Linked DNA regions of Homo sapiens. The protein of the gene in region 1 interacts with the protein of each later gene in a biochemical or structural test. Each region holds a gene or a part of one and is shown in the gene's direction. Other genes may lie near its edges.

What was found. The genes of interacting proteins can lie anywhere in the genome.
Region 2: the proteins of TLE1 (region 1) and LEF1 form a complex in vitro, tested with the Homo sapiens proteins (2 studies listed by BioGRID and IntAct, with this or other methods).

The regions. Positions count from the first base shown.
Region 1 is NC_000009.12:81,682,882-81,686,632, reverse strand, and holds part of TLE1 (transducin-like enhancer protein 1), read left to right. Parts: intron 1-736; coding exon 737-800; intron 801-912; coding exon 913-957; intron 958-3,751. UniProt on the Homo sapiens protein: Transcriptional corepressor that binds to a number of transcription factors. Inhibits NF-kappa-B-regulated gene expression. Inhibits the transcriptional activation mediated by FOXA2, and by CTNNB1 and TCF family members in Wnt signaling.
Region 2 is NC_000004.12:108,050,210-108,053,960, reverse strand, and holds part of LEF1 (lymphoid enhancer-binding factor 1), read left to right. Parts: intron 1-3,751. UniProt on the Homo sapiens protein: Transcription factor that binds DNA in a sequence-specific manner. Participates in the Wnt signaling pathway. Activates transcription of target genes in the presence of CTNNB1 and EP300.

The DNA.
Region 1 (3,751 bases):
AGTTTTACCTGATTCTAACTCAGAAATAACTGTATTGACATTTTTTGCTTTTGTCATGCTTGAGAAAAAGCACACAGATGAGGCGAAGTGGCTTGGGTGTGAATTTTCTTACTTTGTCAGGGGCTTTCTCATTATTGACCTTTTGTCTACTTGTAGATAATATCTCTGCAGCTTGAGGCATACTTGCACACACCGTGTTTACCCAGCAGGGAGAACTTCAACCCACTTTATTGCAGTAGCTACTTGACATATTTTGGCAGGGATTTAAAAACCAAAGGTTTTGAAAGGGACCAGCAATTGTAGGAGTAACTTAACAGATAGGATTTTCAAACCTAGAGACCGTTTGAGTTGGCAAAGATGGCACAGCCTATGCCTAAGAGTGAAGATTGTGCAAGGGCCGGATTTTGGTGGAGTACAGAGAAACAAACTGATGCAGGAAGGTAGGGAGCAGATGACCATGAGGAGGAATCAGTTAGAGGTTCTGACAGATTTTTTTCATTCTTGTCATCTAACCAGATAGGCACCAAGAAGAATGGTAGCTGAATGGACACCTTGTATTGTTCACATTATTCCTTTTCCCTATTAAATGCAAGGACAAAGCTTTTGGGTGTTTACCTAGATAGTTTATGGCTTTTCCAAATTGGTCTGTGTTTTTACTTGAAGTGCAAATATGTGAGGCAGATGTTAAAACAAGTGACATAATGTTTACATTAAGTTGCCTGTTTTGTTTTCCTAGCCTTAAATTGGAATGTGAGAAACTGGCAAGTGAAAAGACAGAAATGCAGAGGCACTATGTGATGGTAGGTATCAAAGATTGGACTTTTTCCTTTTTCATATGATATTAGCAAACGTGTTAGCAGAGTGTAAAAAACATGAGTTAATGAAATGCTTGATTCTTTTTTCTCTTTACAGTATTATGAAATGTCATATGGATTAAACATTGAAATGCACAAACAGGTAAGCTTTAGTTGAACTTCAAGCTGAAATGAGACATCAGTTCATATGATTTAATAATACTGGCTTTGTTCTCAGTAGTGGGCTCTAGGGGTGGGGGTTTGTATGCTATTTTTCTGCCTTGGTTTCCTGTCCTGTGGATTGATGGTAGTATTCTGCATCAAGGGTTGCTTCTTGATAATTACAAGTGTTTAAATGACTAGGAGAGGGAGAGGTGTTTTGGAAATATAAACTAGCCTCTTTATTGACAGATAGGAATTAAGACTTGAGTTTACTTTTTCACCTGTATAGATTTATCCTCTTGAAAGGGCTGGGTATCTTCTACAGTTGCTGAAGTTTAGAATAGTTAATGTTTTTGTGCTGTTTTGCAAGGAAGTGTGGACCTGTTGGGGGGAAAGAAGGGTATTCAGGAGTTTTTTTTAATCGTGGTAATCAAGGTATATGACTATCTGTGGAGTATTCTTTATGCTTTGGGGCTGCATGAAGCAATAGTCAGGATTAGTGGCTTATTAGCAAACAAATTTTTGAAAAATTTCTCAGTTGTTGCAGGTGTGGATGTGAAAAAAGCATCTTTTTATGGCCAGAGCATATGTTGGGAGTTGCTTCAGTCCTAGTGGTTTTTAAAGCATGAAAAGATTAGTGACTGGAAAGCTCTAGCAATGACTATGAGTTTGCAAGTTCCCATAAAATTCACACTTATGGCTACTATAATGGTGTATAAAAAGAGTATTGAGCTGGAACAAGGCACTAAGGACCTCATAAGAGAAGAAAAGCTAAATGATTGCTCAGCCCAAAGGACCCTCGATTGAGTAGTCATTGTCTGCCAAAGAAAGCATTAATGGCAGGGTGTAAGTATTCTGGAGATACGCTGACATTCACTTTTTCATCAAGACGCTGGTACAATAAGTCTTTTAGAAATCGATTGCCTCTTAAAAAATTATCATCAGATGAAGTTGCACAGTTGGACACATTTCAAAGTGCAACAATACAATTCTTACTTGATGTATATGTGCTATTTCATCTCAAACCCTTGTTTCATTAAATTAAAGAGCATGGCTGACCGGCTGGGGCACAGTGGAGAAATTGATTAGTTCAGCCTTCAGATCTTCCTTATATTCAAAGACTTTCATTAAGCAAGTGTGTTTCAGAGTTGAATTCTGCTTTTGTAACTCCGCACTCTTTGATTTTTAATTCATCATAGATTTCATAATGTTAAGTTATCGTGTACATTAGATCTGTTCTCAGATTTGTGTTTGGAAAGAGATTGTGATTTTCAGGGCCTTTTATTAATAATGTAATTGGGCCTTTAAAAATGCAGATTTTACTATGATTTACAAAGTTGGTAGCCTACTTTATGTTGGGTTTGTGCCTTTGTTTTTGTGTGTTTCTCAGTGGCTAGTGCCTTATTCAGGCACTTGTAACTTCTTGATAGTAAATGGGCTAGAAGATCTGTGGCTAACATCTATCGTCATTTAAGTGAATTATGCAAATAAACTTGGCCTAGGCGGTTTAATCTTTTTTTTTTTTTTTAATTTACTCTGAAGGGCACTTTTTTTTGGATAACAGATATTATGGAAGAGTAAGAGGAGACTGAGCTTTTTCTTAAACCCATAAACTCAAAGGATTTAATAACCTCATTGACTCTTTTACAAGGGAACACCACCTCAGTGTGATGCTATATGCTGGTGCTGGGTTTATTGGAGGAGCTAAAAGAGGTGTGTAATTCTTCTGGGTTCCTGTAGGTTATGTGGCGGGATGACCTCTTCTTTATCATGTAGGGAGAAGGGGTGAAGTGGGTCAGAAGCACCATGGTGTGAGAATAGTTTTCTAATGAGTTTCTATACAGAGTGAGGCATTTGTGGCTATATACTGTCTGTCCGTGAGCCTGTATGCATTAATAATATGCTGTGTATAATTGGCTTAGCAATTTGAAAAACGTGAAAAGCTGAGAGACACCATGTTCTTCATAGTAGGGTACTGAGCCTCCTGAAATTTAGTTGATATTGGAAATGCTGACAGACCCTTAACTAGAGTGCTGTGCAAAGTAGTGCTATAATTCAGTTTAAAGTGGACTTACATTTGAAAAACATCCTTCTGAATGTCACACATTAATAATAAGTTCTGAGGAGGCATTTGGTGCAGCTAGTAATCATAATTCTTATTAAAACTGGTGACGTCTGGCCCCCAGGGTGTAGCCAAGCTCAAATTGATGCTTTTTGCCGCCTGATCACCAGCATGGCCTAAGTGCTCATTATATTGTAGAGAGGGCCTTTGGAGCTCTCATTAGATTTGACAGGAATTCTCTCTAGGGGGAAACTGGGCATTAGCGAGACTCCTGACAGGCTGAAATTATTCCTGCTTTATGGCTTATAACCAAATGCTAGCAAGGCATCATCAGGGGACACAAAAAATTGTCATTTTTGACAACATCTTTGTTACTAAAAAAAAAAAAAAAATGCAGTGATGGGGAAACTTTCCGTACAGAGAGCTTTAATGCTGTTAAGATTTGTCTCCAGTGTGACGACCGCTCTCCCTTCCCACCTTTCAACGGGTTTGTCGGAGTGAGTTCTAGAGATTTCAGTGTCAAATCTCACTGCTGACTTTCCTGTCTGGAAGTTTTAAAGTGAAAGTGCATCCAAATCAAGAATGGTATAATTGTGGTTTCCTTTCCTGGTGTGGTGCCCACAGCCCGTGTTTAGGTTGTGTCAACACTTCCTGATAAGCCTTGCCTTTACTTTCTCTGCTCCCGTTTGTGGCGGGTTACCGAAAAGGCAATGAAACAGGAATGGTAATAGAT
Region 2 (3,751 bases), on another chromosome or scaffold:
GTGAACTTAACATCTTTAGTGTGAGAGAACGTCTGTTGAGAGAAATGTGGATTGGATAGCGTTTGGAGGTGAGTAGATGAGGGAGGTCTACCTAGCTAGTTATTACCCTCTGGAAGCACTTCAGCTGACAGAACTACAATGGGCTTTTGAGGCTCTCTCCTTCAAAACTTGCTCAAGACCATTTCTCCCATGTTTCCCGTGGTAGGAAGGATCTAGCGGTCATGACCTGCACCAGGAGGTCTGGCCTACCAATAGGACACATGTCCTCACAGAGGAGACAAACACAGAGGGCTAGGCTGATCAGGAAGAGAAACCAGTAGCTACAGAAAAATTCCCCTGGAGTAATTCATTAACGGTCACAGGCTTGTCTCAAAGTCATCTTGACATTGCCAAAGTCTGGTTGAGCTGATGGTAATTCACTCTGAATAGCCACAGGAGAGGAAGCCTTGCCTTGGTAGAACATGAATCCAGGAGTGGCAATGACCCCTTTCCTCCCACCTCCAGCTTCTGGGAATCTTTTTGCTTTAGAGCTTTGTGGTTAGGGGATTAACTAACTAGTCTTGAATGCTGGGACTAAGGAGTCATTCAGCTGCAGAAATAAAACTCAGTGTTAACCTTCCTAACCACACATTTTCATTTTTCTTTTTTCTCAAATGTTGGGTAATGTTTACTGTCAAGGAGCTGAAGCTGGCTTTTGTAGGTTATATTTCCAGTCTTAGGGACTTAAATTTCAAAGTTAACTTATGCGTTTGTTTCTCTTTATCATCTTTCTTCAAACAGAGCGTGATATCCTGGGGGTGGCTGCACTGTTACAGATGTAGACTGCCTCCACCAGGATACAGGGGTTGTTGCCTGGGGATGGACAGACAGAATGATGGAAGGTAGGAAGGAGAGAAGAAAGTGAATGATAATTTAGTTCCAAGGTATGGTGGAGAGAACACATGTTGAGAGTTCAGAGGCTCATCCTGCTGCCTATTAGTTGGGTGACCTTTGGCAAGTTACTGAACTTCAGGTAGCCTCAGTGTCCTTATCTGTAAGTGGGTGGGAAGATGCAAACTGTAATGATGATAATGTGAAATTCTAAAGTCCATGTCTCAGTGCCTGGCAAATCAGTGCGTAGTGGACAGTGTTTTTGTTCCTTCCCCCTCACCAGCTTCTTGCAGACAAGACCACCTTCAAGTCAACAAGACTGTCACTTTTATGATGCCAGGAGGCCTGGGGAACAGCCCAGCACTGGGACTCTCTAGGGGTCACCATGGGCCAGTCATTTTATGACCATATTCCTAAGTCTCTGCTAAAAAAACAGGATTAGACTAGCTCTGTCACGCTTGCTTCCTGCTGTAGAAGTCTGTACCTCTCTTCCTTCATACACACATGACATTGTGCAGCAGAAGAGTTCACACCCTCAAATCACAGGCTTTTGTCAGTTTTTCCCAAGGTGTAAAAATGGAGACAATTGGCATGAGGTGTGTGGTGTGATGCTGGAATTCCATTTTTGCAATTAAAATCTGTGAATCTGTTTACCTCTCATAAAACCAATCTCTAATATTCTCCCCTCAAATTGCACATCGTTTAAGGCTCCTGCCTCTTGTTAGTAGCATTTGAGAGTGGCGTAAAAGGAAGAGGACGACGAAGAAAGGGTCTTTTATTCCAACTCACTTTTTTTGTATCCTCACCAATTCTGAATAAGGAAGTGATATTACATGATGGGGCAGGGGTGCATTTTGTTCCTGGACACCAGCTTTGCTGCCCTTGCCTTGGCCTGGACAGCTTAAACTGACTGGCCAGTGAGCCCTGAGTGGCACCCTGACAGGGCTGGCCCTTGCCTGCTCCTGACCCTCCACTCCACCACCTCAGAGCTCACCCATAGACTTGTCTCCTTGGCCCTTTCTTCCAGAGGACAGCCTGGGGAGGAACCCCCAGGACATGAGCTGGCCAAGCGCTCTGCTTTTGGTAGGATTTTACATTTATTTGGGCTTAGAGAGAAGGAGTTTCCCCCTTTCCCTTTCTTCACTCCTGAGTCAGGGTCTGTAAAGCCCTATTGGCCCAGGGTCGGTGCTGTTGACCTCCCAGAAACAGGCCCACTCTTGAAATCTTTAGATTCACCTTTATTGCTTGGGCTTTTAGTAAGGAACTCTACCCATTTGGGTTCATGGTTCCATTTGGTTGATGGGATATTTTGTCAAGATTGGAATTTGGTCCAGGAGAGCATCAGGGGGGTTCGGTTATATGGGGTGGGGTGGGGTCTTGTGCCGCCTTTGCATCCCCAGTACAAATGCGTGGTGACTCCTGGTGGAGGGAGCCCAAGTCTGAACATATGTAAGATGGGCCTTGCCTCACTCCCTTTGAAGCCCAGCCGCAGCCGGAGAGCAGTAATTGCTGGCTTTGATTGCGCAGACTTCACTGGTGGGTTGGGCTGTGCCGGGGCTCGCCTGGCCTGGCCCAGCTTCAGCCGCAGCCCCCCAGTGAAGCCTTAGATGTGGGAAAGCTCCAGCCCCTGGAGCCTCATGCCTGTGGTTTCTTGAAAATAATCTGGACTGGACCTGTTTTATATCTGTAAAGCAACACTACAAGGCCCCCGTTTCTCCCACTTGGAAGTAAGACTTGGTCTCCCCTGACATCCCTGTATTTTAAAAGAGCCACCAGGGACAAACTGCCTCATTTCATAGTGAAGGAATTTCTTTGCTCTTTTTTTTTTTTAAGCACTAGTCCCTGAAAGGGATTAGTTGCTTTTTGGTAAGCAACTGTACAGAGGTTCTCTGAAGCCAACTTTCCAGGAGAATTTGCAAGGTGACCCCATGGAATAAGGAAATAACAGGTGGGAAAATGTGAGACTGTGGAAAGAAATGACTTTATTAGGAGATATAGACTCTTTCTTGGCAAGTGACATACTATCCTTTAGGTAAATGGCTATCTCTGGGCACCCATGTTTGTGTTAATCACTATATTATCACTTGTACTCAGCTTAAGAGAGGAGGAGAAGGCACCCTTAGGTAAGGCAGTGAAGGGACAAGAAGACTGGTGGAGCCGGAAGTGCAGGGTGCTCTAGATTGGAGGTGTTAGCCCTGCTTGAGAATGGGGCCACAGCAGGGCCATGGAAGTTGTCTGTACCTCAGTACTTCACAGTTCGCTGTGCCAGGCAGTGGTGGGATGGCCCAACAGAAGGGCAGGTTGTCTCCCTCAGGCGTTCCTGGCTGCCAATGGCGAGTCTATTCTGAGTCCCAGTGCTTGTCTCAGGCGCTAGCCTAGGACTGCAAGGCCAGGCCTCACCAGGAAACTAAATGTTTTCATGTCAGACTGAGAGGAAAACCTTCCCAGGAAGAGCAACCTGGACCAAGCCTTTGAAAATCTGTGATGCAAAATTATAATGTAAATAGGAATCTGTGGGGTGCCCTCTCTCCCACCCCAGGCTCTGCTAGAGCCCTGTTTCTTTCTCCGTAGAAAGGCAGGGTCCTTCGTAGCTCTTTGATCCTCCTGCGTGCAAGATCCATACCTCTGTGGGCCTGGCACAGCGAACTGTGAAGTACTGAGGTACAGACAACTTCCATGGCCCTGCTGTGGCCCCATTCTCAAGCAGGGCTAACACCTCCAATCTAGAGCACCCTGCACTTCCGGCTCCACCAGTCTTCTTGTCCCTTCACTGCCTTACCTAAGGGTGCCTTCTCCTCCTCTCTTAAGCTGAGTACAAGTGATAATATAGTGATTAACACAATGCTGTAGTGTTTTCCTGTTAAACAGGGAATGGTTGATT